Regions from separate parts of the Homo sapiens genome. Here region 2 is linked to region 1. A link means that fine-mapping ties the variant in region 1 to the expression of a gene that starts in the linked region. Tissue or cell type: whole blood. Region 1 holds a variant in brackets; the other region holds the start of a gene. All regions are shown on one strand. Distances are from middle to middle.

The links. PIP is the estimated chance that this variant, and not a neighbour inherited with it, causes the effect.
Region 2: ANAPC5 starts here. The variant in region 1 is fine-mapped to the expression of ANAPC5 in whole blood (TOPMed, PIP 0.99).

What each region holds. Positions count from the first base shown.
Region 1 is chr12:121,377,702-121,385,899 of GRCh38, reverse strand. All of the region lies in intron 1 of LOC124903037 (a long non-coding RNA gene), which reads right to left. Among named protein-coding and RNA genes, the nearest start is that of RNF34, 18 kb to the left of the region's middle. The variant C/T (reference allele first, on the strand shown) is at 4,974.
Region 2 is chr12:121,349,289-121,357,464 of GRCh38, reverse strand. It overlaps ANAPC5 (anaphase promoting complex subunit 5), which reads left to right and starts at 5,054. Exons shown (of 17, transcript NM_016237.5): 1 at 5,054-5,331. The coding sequence starts at 5,125. RefSeq lists enhancers at 3,278-3,951, 3,952-4,627, 5,052-5,311, 5,304-5,979.

The sequences.
Region 1 (8,198 bases):
ACCTGTAATCCCAACTACTTGGGAGGCTGAGGCACAAGAATTGCTTGAACCTGGGGAGGCAGAGGTTGCAGTGAGCCGAGATCACACCACTGCACTCCAGCCTGGATGACAGAGTGGGATTCTGTCTCAAAAAAAAAAAAATGTAGATTAAGTCAACTCTCCCCACCCTCTTGAGAAGTGCTGACAAGGTCGAGAAGACGATAAATGGGACTAAGCCTTTTTTCAAAGATCATAATCAACACATTTATTAAAACCTTGATTGTGTGTAGTGCTATGCCATGCTAAATGATTCACACAGAGAATTAGCTAAACCTTGCCTCTCTCCTCTAACAGTTTACAATCCAAGGCAGACAGGCTGACGCTCTTGCACATTTATAGCCAAATTAGACAGACGCAATGAAATACGAACATTATCAACTGATAAATGAATAAAGTAGACATTCAGGGAAGGAGACATTCAGATGGTTGTGATAAGAAGAGTTGCCTTGAAAATTCCAATTTCAGACTATGCAGGATAAAAAGATTAGTACTCTTATCCATCACCACCTTCATTTACAATCATGTAAGAATATACATGTGCCTAGGCTGGGCACGGGGGGCTCATGCCTGTTATCCCAGCACTTTGGGAGGCCGAGGTGGGTGGATCACAAGGTCAGGAGTTAGAGACCAGCCTGACCAACATGGTGAAACCCCATTTCTAGTAAAAATACAAAAATTAGCCAGGCATGGTGGCGTGCGCCTGTAATCCCAGCTACTCAGGAGGCTGAGGCAAGAGAATTGCTTGAACCCGGGAGACAGAGGTTGCGAAGAGCCGAGATTGCACCATTTGCACTGCAGCCTGGGCAACAGAGTGAGACCCCATCTCAAAAAAAAAAAAAAAAAAGAGATACATGTGCCTAATAATTGTTCCCAAAAATGTCAACCTTTGTCCATCCTCATTCTGAAACCCTTACACCTTCTAGAGTCACAATACTTGTAGCAGTACTTTTTTTTTTTCTTTTTGAGACAGGCTCTTGCTCCATTGCCCAAGCTAGAGTGCAGTGGCAAGATCATGGCTTACTGCAGCATTGACCTTCCTGGCTCAAGTGATCTTCCCCCCTCAGCCTCCTGAATAGCTGGGACTACAGACACCATGCCTGGCCCGTTTTTTTTTTTTTTTTTTTTGTAGAGACAAGATCTCACTATGTTACCCAGACTGGTCTCAGACTCCTGGCCTCAAGCAATCCTCCTGCCTCGCCCTCCCAAAGTGGTGGGATTACAAGCATGACCCACCATTCCTGGCTGCCTGTAGTAATTTTGTAAGACTATAATTTCAAATGGTATTCTTGAACACACATCTGACTATGTCTTTGCTAAAAGGTTAATAAAATAGCCTTTTCTTTTCAGCACTGCTGCCAAGATTTCCAAAACAGCTCTTTTCATCTTGTATTGAATTTTTTTTTGTTTCAACTGATTCAATTCTATTTAATTCTTATCTCCCCTACTTCAACTTTTTTTTTTTTTTTTTTTTGAGACAGAGTTTCGCTCTTGTTGTCCAGGCTGGAGTGCAATGACAAGATCTCAGCTCACTGCAACCTCCACCTCCCAGGTTCAAGCAATTCTCCTGCCTCAGCCTCCTGAGTAGCTGGGACTACAGGTGCACACCACCACACTCGGCTAATTTTCATGGTTTTTTTAGTAGAGACGGGGTTTCTCCATGTTGGCCTGGCTGGTCTCGAACTCTTGACCTCAGGTGATCCACCTGCCTTGGCCTCCCGAAGTGCTGGGATTACAGGCCTGAGCCACACCACCTGCTGAAGCTAATTCTTTAGAATGGCCCCTTTAATTTGAATGGCTAATTATTACACCATTAGACGCTTGAAAAAAATACTTTTGGCCAGGCGCGGTGGCTCAGCAGTACACATATGCAGGTGTGTATATTGATATGACACTCATAGAAGAGTTCTAGGAATTTGCTCGATATGTTTATAGCTGGGTGTGAACTGATAGTCCCGAAGCTGAAAGTGGAAACTCCAGTACCTAGATTCAGATCCATGTTTCAAGTCGCTCTGAATATCACTTTTTTTTTTGTTTGAGACAGGGTCTTGCTCTGTTGCCTAGGCTGGAGTGCAGTGGCACAGTCACGGCTCACTACAGCCTCCACCCCTGGGCTCAAGCGATCCTCCTGCCTCAGCCTCCTGATTAGCTGGAACCACCAGTGGGCGCCACCACACCTGGCTAATTTTTGTAATTTTTGTCGAGATGGAGTTTTGCCCTCTTGCCCAAAATGGTCTGGAACTCCTGGGCTGAAGCAATTCTCCCACCTCAGCCTCCCAAAATGCTGAGATTACAGGCCTAAGCTACCACACCTGCCTGAAAATTATCTTTAAAATGACCTCAGATGCCTGGCTGAGTAATGTGTAGGTACTAGAATAGGCACAGGGGTGCCATAAAAAATGTTAGTAGATGAATGACATAATCCAAGTTTCTTGGTTTTCGTTGTTTTTCCTGTAAATGAATGACCCCTAATAGAAATTTTCAGTTCATGACTGTTAATGGGGATGGGGGAGAAATGTCCAGATCTGTTGTAATCCTTAGCTTTCTAAAATTCTTGCCCAGCCTCTAAAGCACTGCTCTCCAAATCTTATTATGTCTAAGAATAGAAATATCCTGGAGCGCTGACCTGATAGAAGTATTTTTCAGTTGTTTGATAGTGTTCACCTCGACTCTTATTAGAAGAGAGGGTAGCAAAGATTGGGATGCCTTTCCAAAAATATCGAAGCCTTTATCCAATATGGAATCACTGTCCCACAGCAGTGAGAATTACCTTAAGCAAAGTTATCTTGCTTAGAAAGTTGACTATAAAGACGGCTATGAGGACCGAAATCTTAATTTTCTTTTTTTTTTCTGATTACAAAAGGAAAATGCATTATTGTAGAAATATAGAAAAGTGTACAAAAGAATATTAAAATTACGATTCCACTACTTAAAGATAAGCAGTACCAGCATTTTGATGTACATCTGACAATTACAACAGCCAGACTTAACATTTACTGAGTCTTCTAATTTTTTTTTTTTTTGAGAAAGAGTCTTGCTCTGTCGCCCAGGCTGGAGTGCAGTGGCGGCATCTCAGTTCACTGCAAGCTCCACCTCCCCGGTTCACGCCATTCTCCTGCCTCAGTCTCCCCAGCAGCTGGGACTACAGGCGCACGCCTCCATGCCCAGCTAATTTTTTGTATTTTCAGTAGAGACGGGGTTTCACCGTGTTAGCCAGGATGGTCTCCATCTTCTGACCTCGTGATCCGCCCACCTTGGCCTCCCAAAGTGCTGGGATTACAGGCGTGAGCCACCGTGCCCATCCGAGTCTTCCAATTTTTAAAAAGTATGCTGGCCAGAGGCCGGGCATGGCACACAGCTGTAGTCCCAGCTACTCGGGAGGCTGAGGCAGGAGGATTGTTTGAGCCTAGGAGGCAGAGGTTGCAGTGAGCCGAGATTGTGCCACTGCACTCCAGCCTGGGCAACAGAGCTCGACTCCTTCTCAAAAAAAAGAAAAAAAAAAAAGCTAAGCACTATGCGTTAGAACACAGATGTTCTCATTATTTTAAAGACATGGGGGTCTTGCTATGTTGTCCAGGCTACATTCAAATTTTTCCAGAGAATGGGTGTATCAATTTGCATTTCTATTGGTTTTGTATAGAAACAGCCCAATTCTCTGCACTCTGATCAGCGCTTATTAATTTACTCAAATCTTGGCCAATACTGTGTCTATTTTATTTATTTATTTGAAATAGGATCAAGCTGGGCATGGTGGCTCATGTCTATAATCCCAGCACTTTGAAAGGCCGAGGTAGGCAGATCACCTGAGGTCAGGAATTCAAGACCAGCATATAGCCAACATGGTGAAACCCCATCTCTACTAAAAATACAAAAATTAGCCGGGCATGGTGGCAGGCAACTGTAATCCCAACCCTAATCCCTCTAATATTCTGGAGGCTGAGGCAAAAGAATTGCTTGAACCCAGGAGGTGGAGGTTGCAATGAGCAGAGACAGTGCCACTGCACTCCAGCCTGGGAGACAAAGCGAGACTCCGTCCCCACCCCCCCAAAAAAAAAGAAATAGAATCTTACTCTGTCACCCAGGCTGCAGTGCAGTGGCACAATTACAGCTCACTGCAGCCTCAAACTCCTGGTTTCAAGCAATCCTCCCACCTCAGCCTCCTGAGTAGCTGGGACTATAGGTACGTGCCACCACATCTGGCTAATTAAAAAAAAAAAATTTTTTTTGAGACAGAGTATCACTCTTTCACCCAGGCTTGAGTGCAGTGGTGCGATCTCTGCTCACTGCAACCTCCACCTCCTCGGTTCAAGTGATTCTCACGCCTCAGCCTCCCCAGTAGCTGAGATTACAGGTGCCTGCCACCATGCCCGGCTAATTTTTGTATTTTAGTAGAAATGGGGTTTCACCATGTTGGCCAGGCTGGTCTCTAACTCCTGACGTCAAGTGACCCACCTGCCTCAGCCTCACAGCATGTTGGGATTACAGGCATGAGCCACCACGCCCGGCCAAAAATTTTTTTTTGTAGAGGTAGAGTTTTGCTATGTTTCCCAGGCTGGTCTTGAACTCCTGACCTCAAGCAACCCTCCTGCCTCAGCCTCCCAAAGTGTTGGGATTACAGGTATGAACCACCATGCCTGGCTTTCTGAGTCTAAATAATGGCATTTTTCTTATTTTGATTTGCATTTCTTTTATTTTTGGTAGAGTTAAACATTTTTCTTTTTCTTTCCCTCCCATCTTTATTGAGGTGTAATTGACAAATAAAAACTGTATATATTCACGGTGTACAATATGTTTTGATATATTTATACACTGTAAAATGATCACCACAGCCAGGCGTGGTGGCTTATGCCTGTAATCCCAGCACTTTGGGAGGCCGATGCGGGCGGATCACCTGAGGTTGGGAATTCGAGACCAGCCTGACCAACATGGAGAAACCC[C/T]GTCTCTACTGAAAATACAAATTCAGCCAGGCGTGGTGGCCCATGCCTGTAATCCCAGCTACTTGGGAGGCTGAAGCAGGAGAATCGCTTGAACCCGGGAGGTGGAGGTTGCAGTGAGCCCAGATGGCACCACTGCACTCCAGCCTGGGCAACAAGAACAAGAGCGAAACTCGTTGTCAAAAAAAGATCACCACCGAAAGGCTAATTAACATATCCACCACCTCATGTAATTACCGTTTTTTGGTGGCAAGAACACTAAGTTCTACTGTGTTAGAAAATGTCAAGTATACAATACATTGTTATTATTATTTATTATTATTTTTTTGAGACGGAGTCTTGCTTTGTCGCCCAGGCTGGAGTGCAGTGGCACAATCTTGGCTCACTGCAAGCTCCACCTCCCTGGTTCACGCCATTCTCCCGCCTCAGCCTCCCGAGTAGATGGGACTACAGGCGCCCGCCACCATGCCTGGTTAATTTTTTGTATTTTTAGTAGAAATGGGGTTTCACCATGTTAGCCAGGATGGTCTTGATCTCCTGACCTCGTGATCCACCCGCCTTGGCCATCCAAAGTGCTGGGATTACAGACGTGAGCCACCGCGCCCGGCCTACATTATTATTAGTTACGGTTACCATATGCTATATTTTTGATCTCCAGAATTTATTTATCTTATAATTGAAACTTTCCTTTGACCAAAATTCTCCTGTTTCTCCCTCCCTATGGCTCTTGTCAACCAACCTACTCTCGTTTCTATGAGTTAGACTTCTTTGGATACCACACATAATGAGATCATGCAGTGTTTATCTTGAGTTGAACTTTTTTTTTCCATCAAGCCAATTGTTTTAGCGTCTTTATGTATTTTAGAAACAAATGAGAATTGTAATGTCAAGGCCTTCAGCATTGACTAGTTTGGAGCTAACTCTTAGAATACAAAAAGGTAGTTCCTGGCCGCGCACAGTGGCTCACGCCTGTAATCCCAGAACTTGGGAGGCTGAGGCAGATGGATCACTTGAGGTCAGGGGTTCAAGACCAGCCTGGCCACCATGGTGAAACACCATCTCTACTAAAAATATAAAAATTAGCCAGGCACAGTGGCACATGCCTGTATTCCCAGCTACTTGGGAGGCTGAGGCAGGAGAATCACTTGAACCTGGGAGGCAGAGGTTGCAGTGAGCTGAGATTACTCCACTGTGCTCCAGCCTGGGCAACAGAGCAAGATTCTGTTTCTTTTTTTTTTTTTTTTTTTTTTGAGATGGAATCTTGTTCTGTCATCCAGGCTGGAATGCAGTGGCACAATCTTGGTTCACTGCAGCCTCTGCTTCCGGGTTTTAAGCAATTCTCCTGCCTCAGCCTCCCCAGTAGCTGAGATTATAGGCACGCACAACCACGCCTGGCTAATTTTTGTATTTTTAGTAGAGGCGAGGTTTCACCATGTTGGCCAGGCTGGTCTCGAACTCCTGACCTCACATGATTCACCCACCTTGGCCTCCCAAAGTGCTGGGATTACAGGTGTGAGCCACAATGCCCGGCCGAGACTCTGTTTCCCAAAAAAAAAAAAAAAAAAGAAAAAAAAGGAATTAGCATTCTACTCCTAAGTATATACTCAAAAGAACTGAAAACATATACTAGAACAAATACTTGTACATGAATGTTCATAGCAGTGCTATAAACAAGAGTCAAAAGACAGATATATCCCAAATTTCCATCAACTGATGAATGGATTAAAACATTGTGGTATATATACACAACAGAATATTATTCAACCATAAGAAATGAAGTACTGATACATGTTACAACATGAATGAATCTGGGTAACATTTTACTAAGTCAAATAAGCCAGAAACGAAAGGTCACATACTGTATCACATCCCCCCCTTGTTTTTGCAGGGACAGGGTCTTGCTCTGTTGCCCAGTCTAGTCTCAAACTTCTGCCCTCAAATGATCCTCCAGCCTCTGCTTCCCAAAGTGCTAGGCTTACAGGCAGGATTCACCATGCCTGGCTGAGTCTATTTGTATGAAACGCCCGGTATAAATGAATCCATAGAGACACAAAGCACACTGGTGGTTTCCAGGGGCTGAGGAGAGTGGAGGAATAGGGAGTAATTGCTTAGTGGACACGGGGTTTCCTTTTACGGTGATGAAGAAGTTTTGAAACAAGGTAGAGGTGGTGGTTGTACATCATGGTGAATGTACTAATATTACTGAATTATTCACTTTATTTTTAAAATTTTTATTTATTCTGATGGAGTCTCACTCTGTTGCCCAGGCTGGATTGCAGTGGTGCAATCTCTCCTCACTGCAACCTCCACCTCCTGGGTTCAAGTGATTCTCCTGCCTCAGCCTCCCGAGTAGCTGGGATTACAGGTGCTCACTACCACGCCCAGCTAGTTTTTTTTTTTTTTTTTATTTTTAGTAGGCAGGCTTTTGCCATGTTGGCCAGGCTGGTCTGTTATAACTCCTGACCTCAGGTGACCCGCCTGCCTCGGCTTCCCAAAGTGCTGGGATTACAGATATGAGCACCACGCCCAGGCTGAATTATTCACTTTATTTATTTTTGAAATGTAGTCTTGCTCTGTTGCCCAGGGTGGAGTGCAGTGGTGCAATCTTGGCTCACTGCAACCTCCACCTCCCAGGTTCAAATGATTCTCCTGCCTCAGCTTCCCGAGTAGCTGGGATTACAGGTGGCCACCACCACACCTGGCTAATTTTTTTTTATTTTTAGTAGAGATGGGGTTTCACCATGTTGGCCAGGCTGGTCTTGAACTCCTGATCTCAGGTGATCTGCCCACCTTGGCCTCCCAAAGTACTGGGATTACAGATGTGAGCCACCATGCCTGGCCAAATTATTTACTTTAAAATGGTTAACTTGATGTCATATGAATTTCATCTCAATTTTTAACAAGCTAAACAAAATAAAAGAATTTGCTTTTCCACTGGGCACAGTGGCTCATACCTGTAATCCCAGCACTTTCAGAGGCCAAGGCAGGAGGATCTCTTGAGCCCAGGAATTTGAGACCAGCTTGGGCAACATAGCAAGACCCTGCCTCTACAAAAAAATTAAAAAACTAGCCACGCAAGGTGGTGCGTGCCTGTGGTCCCAGCTACTCATGAGGCTGACGTGGTAGGGTGGCTTGAGCCTGCACAGTGAAGGCTACCATGGTGATTGCACCATTGCACTCCAGCCTGGGTAACAGAGTGAGACACTCAAAAAAATTTTTTTTGGTCTT
Region 2 (8,176 bases), 28 kb after region 1:
CTTCCTTCCCTCCCTCCCTTTCTTTCTCTTTCTCTTTTTTTCTCTTTCTTCTCTCTTTCTCTCTCTTTCTTTCTTTCTTTCTTTCTTTTCCCTCCTTCCTTCCCTCCCTTCCTTCCCTCCTTCTCTCTCTTTCTCTCTCTCTCTCCCTTTCTTTCATTTTGATACAATGTCTCACTGTCACCCAGGCTGGAGTATAGTGGCATGCTCACAGCTCACTGCAGCCTTGACCTCCTGGACTCAAGTGATTCTCCCACCTCAGCCTCCTAGTAACTGGGAATACAAGCACACACCACCATGCCTGGCTATTTATTTATTTTTTTAATTTCTTGTAGACACAGGGTCTTATCATGTTGTCCAGGCTGGTCTTAAACTCCTGGGCTCAAGCAATCCTCCCACCCTCGGCCTCCCAAGTGCTGGGACTACAGGCATAAGCCACTGTGCCCAGCCTTGGGTAGTTTCTTATGACAATTGTTTTCCTCCACGAGGTCAAACACCTAGTTTGTATATTCACTGCTGTACTCGCATGGACTTAGCACAATGTCTGGCATATAGTACGTACTCAAAAATATTTGTTGAGTGAATGTAAGGATTTGCAGCACAGTTGACTCAAAGGCATATTGACAATAACTGAGCATATACTAAATGTGTCAGAAACTAAGGATGCAAAGATTTTTTTAAAAAAGCAAACCTGCTCCCTGCCTATGACAGCCCACCAGAGGAGGCAGTTACTTAAGTAAGTCATTGATATAAAATCATACACATAATAAATGAAGCTTGAACAAAGTGCTACAAAAATGGTCACATGATCTCTAAGATGATGGAGTAAGTCCAAAAGAGTTCAAATGTTTTCAGGGTTTTGATATTTAGCCATGTTCTTTTTTTTTTTTTTTTTTTGAGAAGGAGTTTCACTCTTGTTGCCTAGGCTGGAGTGCAATGGAATGATCTTGGTTCACTGTATCCTCTGCCTACTGGGTTCAAACGATTCTCCTGCCTCAGCCTCCCAAATAGCTGGGATTACAGGCATGCGCCACCATGGCCGGCTAATTTTTTATTTTTAGTAGAAAAGGTTTCACCATGTTGGTCAGGATGGTCTTGAACTCCTGACCTCAGGTGATCCACCTGACTCAGCCTCCCAAAGTGCTGTGATTACAGGCGTGAACCATGGCGCCTGGCCTAGCAACATTCTTAAAATCAGATATATACATATAGAAAAGTCTAGGCCGGGTGTGATGGCTGACACCTGTAATCCCAGCATCTTGGGAGACTGAGGTGGGAGGATTTTGTGAGCCCAGGACTTACAGACCAGCCTGAGCAACACAGTGAGACTCTATCTCTACAAAAAAATTAAAAATTAGCCACATGTGGTGGTGCATTCCTGTGGTCCCAGCTATTCGGGAGGCTGAGGTGGGAGGATCGCTTGAGCACAGGAGGTGGAGGCTACAGTAAGCTGTGATCATGCCACCGCACTCCAGCCTGGGCCACAGAGTGAGACCCTGGCTCCAAAAAACAAAACAGAACAAAACAAAAAACCCAATAACGATTGATGAGGATTGTAGTGAGTTGGAAACGGCATGCCCTAAATAAAGGTGGCTTATTTATTTATTTATGAGACAGAGTCTCACTCTGTCGTCCAGGCTAGAGTGCAGTGGTAATCATAGGTCACTGCAGCCTTGAACTCCTGGGCTCAAGGTATCCTCCGGCCTCAGCCTCCCAAGTAGCTGGGATTACAGGTGCATCCCAGCACACCTGGCTAATTTTTGTATTTTTAGTAGAGACAGGGTTTCACCATGTTGGCCAGGCATGTGTCAAACTCCTGGCCTCAAAGTGATCCACCCACCTCTGCCTCCCAAGGTGCTGGGATTATAGGCATGAGCCGCCACCTCCAGCCTATTTATTTATTTATTTTTGAGATGGAGTTTTTGCTCTGTTGCCCAGGCTGGAGTGCAGTGGCATGACCTCGGCTCACTACAACCTCTGCCTCCTGGGTTCAACCGATCCTCCTGCCTCAGCCCCCCGAGTAGCTGGGATTACAGGCACCCCCCACCATGCCTGGCTAATTTTTATATTTTTAATAGAGACAGGGTTTCACCATGTTGCCCAGGCTGGTCTCGAGCTCCTGACCTCAAGTGATCTGCCTGCCTTGGCCTCCCAAAATGTTGGGATTACAGGCATGAGCCATTGCACCTGGCCAAAGGCAGCTTATGCTGTGCATATCCAGTCAGTTGTTACCATCTAGGAATAAATCATGTTACCAAATTTTCAAATTTTTCAAGTGAAGCTGGAAATGTAGTTCTTTGTTGGCAGAAATATCCTAATTTTTAAGTGTTGGCAAACACCATGCAAAGCAAATAAAATATATCTAATGAGCCGCATTTAGTTTAGATTGCAACTTCAGTTTGCAACTTCTGGCTTAGAAATTCATCCCTTTTGGTCCCCAGCACCTAGAACAGTGCCTTAAATATAGCAGGAGCTTAGCACAGTGTTACTGAATAAATGAATCAATGGCTTGAAAGTCTTACCAATTTACAGTAAAATTGTTATTTAGGATTTTGTAAAATTACTTTCCTCTTTCCATTCATTAAGTGTTCCTACTCAGGATTTTAAGGTTGAATACTAGTTTATTCCACACAGACCCTTTGTCAAACCTTATTTATGGTATACACATATGCAAAAATATCCTAAAGAGCTGGGAGATTGTAAGTATGCTTTTTCATTAATAGAGTGAGGCATAAAAATAAACCGAGGCAAAGAAAGAGGTTAAGTGAGTATTAAATTCCTGGCAAAAGCCAGCTTCTCCTTTCACAAATAAAAGATAGTTATATAATAATTATGTATGGTAACTAAAACATACAGAGTTCTCAAGATAGGAAAGCTTGTATTACAAGATATCAATGTCTTCTTTTTTGATAGCATCATTTAGCTTATACATATCTGCCTTCTTTTTTGTTTTTGTGAACTAATAATGCATATTCATTCATTATTCATTAAACAAATAGCGATTGAGAAAACAAAAACCAGGCATGAGGCTGCATGCAGTGGCCCATGCCTTTAATCGTAGCAATTTGGGAGGCTGAGGCAGGAGGATCACTTGAGTCCAGGAGTTCGAGACCAGCCTGGACAACATCGCAAGACCTCGTGTCTACAAAAAATAAAAAAATTAGCCATGCATCCAGGCACAGTGGCTCAGGCCTGTAATCCCAGCACTTTTGGAGGCGGAGATGGGCGGGTCACCTGAGGTCAGGAGTTCAACCAGTTCAAGACCAGCCGGGCCAACATGGTGAAACCCCATCTCTACAAACAATACAAAAATTAGCCGGGCGTGGTGGTGCGTGCCTGTAGTTCCAGCTACTCGGGAGGCTGAGGCAGGAGAATTGCTTGAACCCGGGAGGTAGAGATTGTAGTGAGCCGAAATCGAGCGACTGTACTCCAGACTGGGCGACAGAGCAAGACTCCGTATCGGGAAAAAAAAAAAAAAAAAATTAGCCATGCATGGTGGCACAAGCCTGTAGTCTCAACTACTCGTGAGGCTGAGGTGGGAGGATTGCTTGAGCCTGGCATTCCTGAGGGCGAGGGGGTCTCCTGCCCTGCTCATGTCTAATTACCTACTTTAACTGGAGGCTGAGGTTGCAGTGAGCCGTGAGCGTGCCACTGCAGTCCAGCCTCGGTAGCAGAATGAGAGAGAGAGAAAGTATAATTTAAACAAACATAAAAATGGGCACAAGGCAGGCCGGGCGCGGTGGCTCACGCCTGTAATCCCAGCACTTTGGGAGGCCGAGGCGGGAGGATCACGAGGTCAGGAGATTGAGACCATCCTGGCTAACACGGTGACACCCCGTCTCTACTAAAAATACAAAAAATTAGCCGGGCGTGGTGGCCGATGCCTGTAGTCCCAGCTACTCGGTAGGCTGAAGCAGGAGAATGGCGTGAACCAGGGAGGTAGAGCTTGCAGTGAGCAGAGATCGCGCCACTGCACTCCAGCCTGGGCGACAGAGGAGACTCCGTCTCAAAACAAAACAAAACAAAACAAAAGGCACAAGGCACAGTGTGTGCATGTGGATAGCCAAAGTTGAATGGTATGTGGTTTTTCTTTCAAGGGACATAAAGACTAATAGGGATACCAGATCATTAATAATAATTCAGGGTATAGAGAACTAAGTGTCTTGGGAGAGGTACAGATGAACGGAAGGGGAATTGTGAAAAATCAGGTTCAAAATGTTGGCTGGGGATTGCTTTTGGAGGGCTTTGAAATGCAGAGTATAGATTTTGTAGTTTATTAGGTAGGAAACTGACTCAGCACATGGAGGTGATGTTGCTAATGTTCTATTTCACGTAAGGATACACGACCACTGGCAACCTGATCTGGCTGTCTGCAAATGGCATTTGTGAAACGCTGAAGAAAAATCTCATGTTCCTATCTTTAAAAAGACAGAGTTAAACTCCTAAACATTTGAGTTTAAAAGTAACATAATAAATACATACTTTAAGGGTGCAAATTTAATTTCGGTACTTTTAAACACAATCATTTAAACATTCTATTTGAACTATTTTCAAATTACATGAACAAGCCAGGCGCGCTGCCTGTAGTCCCAGCTTCTCGGGAAGGCGGGAGGATCGCTCGAGCCCAGGATTTGGGAGGGTGCAGTGCTCTTTGAGGGCGTCTACGAATAACCACTGCCCTCCAGTCTTGGTAACATAGCGAGATATCGTCTCAAACAACAACAACGACAACCACCACCACCACCACCAACAACAACAACCAACAACAAAAAAACCACTTTGGGAGCTCCTCAGTCCCTTCAGCCCCGACCCCAAGCATCGACTTCCCCTCCCATCCGGTCCCTGTCCACGTAGCCTGGGAACCTGCTCCCACTCGGCAAAAGTTTCTGTAGGGAGTCAGTCTTTTGGTGCACCCCTCCCCGCACTCTTGTACATTCTGACTGGCTGTCGCTCTCCCATGTGCTCTGACAGACTGCTCTGATTGGTTAACAAATGCCGCGAGCACGCGGATGTCTGTTTCCTGGGATATTGTGAGGGCGGGCGGAGATGTAGACCCGGTAGTGTTGTGCCTTGTGGTGACAACTGGCGGCAGCGCGCCGCGGGCCCGAGACTTAGTCTCGGGCCGCCATGGCCAGCGTCCACGAGAGCCTCTACTTCAATCCCATGATGACCAATGGGGTTGTGCACGCCAATGTGTTCGGCATCAAGGACTGGGTGACGCCGTACAAGATCGCGGTGCTGGTGCTGCTGAACGAGATGAGCCGCACAGGCGAGGGCGCCGTCAGCCTCATGGAGCGGCGGAGGCTCAACCAGCTGCTCCTGCCCCTGCTGCAGGTGAGAGGCGCCCGCTGGCTCCTGCTCGTGCAGCAAACTTTTACTGAGCATCTGCTCTGTGCGGAACCCTGGGCTTGGGGACACTCGTGTCCATCAGATACTCTCCCTGCCTGGAGGAACGTGAAGAAATAAAGATAGCTACTACCGGTAGCTAACACGTACTGAGCGTTTACGGTGGGCCAGGCGCTTTACATGCATTTTTTTTTTTTGCAAGTTCATGTCTGGCTCCAGTATTTATTAGCTGAGAGTTAGAGTCTCAGATCCTGTATCTTCTTTAAAATGGGGCTATACAATAGAGCGTTGGAGACACAGGGATAAGTCATACAGGCTCCCTATCCTAGAGGACCGTAATAAACAGTAAAAATGCCATAAAACCGGGCCGGGCGCAGTGGCTCACGCCTATAATCTCCGCACTTTGGGAGGGTAAGGCGGGTGGATCACGAGGTCAGGAGTTCGAGACCAGCCTGACCAACGTAGTGAAACCCCGTCTCTACTAAAAACACAAAAAATTAGCTGGACGTGGTGGCGGGCACCTGTAATTTCAGCTACTCGGGAGGCTGAGGCAGGAGAATCGCTAGAACCTGGGAAGCGGAGGTTGCAGTGAGCCGAGATCGCGCCACTGCACTCCAGCTTGGGCGACAGTGCAAGACTCCGTTTCAAAAAAAAAAAAGGCATAAAGCCAAGGACGAGCACTGATTGAATACTTAACTGTGTGCTAAGCACTTTACTTAAAATTTGTTTTAAATTATTATTATTTTTTTGAGACAGGGTCTCGCTTTGTCGCCCAGGCTGGAGTGCAGTAGTGTGATCGCGGCTCACTGCAGCCTCGACCTCTCAGGCTCAGGTGATCCTCCCACCTCAGCCTCCCAAGTAGCTGGGAGTACAGGCGCGGGTCACTACGCCCAGCTAATTTTTTTGCATTTTTTGTAGAGACGGGATTTTGCCATGTTACCCAGGCTGGCCGGGAACTCCTGGACTCAAGCAATCCTCCCGTCTGGTCTCCCAGAGTATTGGGATTACAGGAGTGAGCCACTGCGCCCGGCCGTCATGTGTTATTTCATTTTGCAGACACAGGTTTAGCTCAGATAATTAAGTTCCTTAATTCATTTGGGTCTCAGTTTTCTCTCTGTAAAATGGGAACAATAGTAGAAACTGTTACTAGCATGTAGTAAATGCTCAATATTACTAGAATTTTCATTTTAGTGTGTTCACATATGGCATATACCTTCCCCTATATCAGTTGTGGTTTTTCCATTTATATTCATGGTTACGTGAGTGATGGCCTTCTCTCCCATTAGACGGTAACCTCCACCAGCTCAGTACTTAGTCCTGTTTTTGTTTACTGGTACATCCCCAAAGCCTCCTAGAATGCCTGAGTAGTTTTTTGTAAAATGAATGAAATGCGATAGAGGTGGATGAGTGCACTCATGGAGAGGATTTTTTTTTTTTTTTTGAGACGGAGTCTCGCTCCGTCGCTCAGGCCAGAGTGCAGTGGCACGATCACGGCTCACTGCAGGCTCCGCCTCCCGGGTTCACGCCATTCTCCTGCCTCAGCCTCCGGAGTAGCTGGGACTATAGGCTCCCGCCACCACGCCCGGCTAATTTTTTGTATTTTTAGTAGAGACGGGGTTTCACCGTGTTAGCCGGGATGGTCTCGATCTCCAGACCTCGTGATCTGTCCGCCTCGGCCTCCCAAAGTGCTGGGATTACAGGCATGAGCCACCGCGCCCGGCCCGAGGATTTCTTACAGAAAGTGTGAAGCTGTGCCTTGATGGATAAGCATTGTCTGTTGAGTAACAGTGATGGCAGAAACAGATCTGGGTCCCTGGGCCTCTATATTATGGGATCTTAAAAGATAAACCTAATAAAATTAGTGTCTAGAGTTGCATTTATATTCCTTAGTATAGTTTATAAAGGCTTTTTTAAAAAATTTATCACTTGTATTTGTGGGTGAGGGGCATGGGAAGAGGGGAGAACTGAGGACACCATGGTCAAGAGACCTACCCAGTTAAATAAAAGGGATGTCTTTATAACTTGTGGCTCCCAGGGCTAGCCACGTCTGCTATTACTATAAATGCATTTCCCTCCATTATTAAAGTTATAATACTAAAATTTTGGTAAATAAAAGGCCGGGTGGGATCACACCTGTAACCCCGGCACTTTGGGAGGCTGAGGTGGGTGGATCACTTGAGGTCAGGAGTTCGAGACCAGCCTGGCCAACACAGTGAAACCCCATCTCTACTAAAAATACAAAAAAAAATTAGCCGGGCATTGTGATGTGCGCCTGTAGTCCCAGCTACTCGGGAGGCTGAGGCAGGAAATCATTTGAACCCAGGAGGTGGAGGTTGCAGTGAGCTGAGATCACATCACTGCACTCCAGCCTGGGCATCCGTCTCCAAAAAAAAAAAAAAAATAGAAACAGTGATTCTGGTCTCTTAACTCTCACCTTCCTGCTCATGTTGTTTTTTGCTGTTTGGAATTCTTTCTGGTTTTTAACCTGGCTAACTACTATATAGTTATTTTATTTAATTTTTTATTTTTAAATTTATTTTTTTTTTAATTTTTTTAGAGTGGTGGGATCTCACTCCCTCAGTCACCTGGGCTGGAGTGCCGTGGTGCGATCCTAGCTTACCATAGCCTCCACCTCCCAGGCTCAAGCTGTCCTCCTACCTCAGTCTTCTAAGTAGCTAGGACTACAGGCACCTGCCACCATGCCTGGCTAATTTTTAAATTTTGGTAGAGATGTAGTCTCCCTATGTTGCTCAGGCTAGTCTTGAACTCCTGGGCTCAAGGGATCCACCTGCCTCAGCTTCCCAAAGTGCTGGCATTACAGGCATGAGCCACC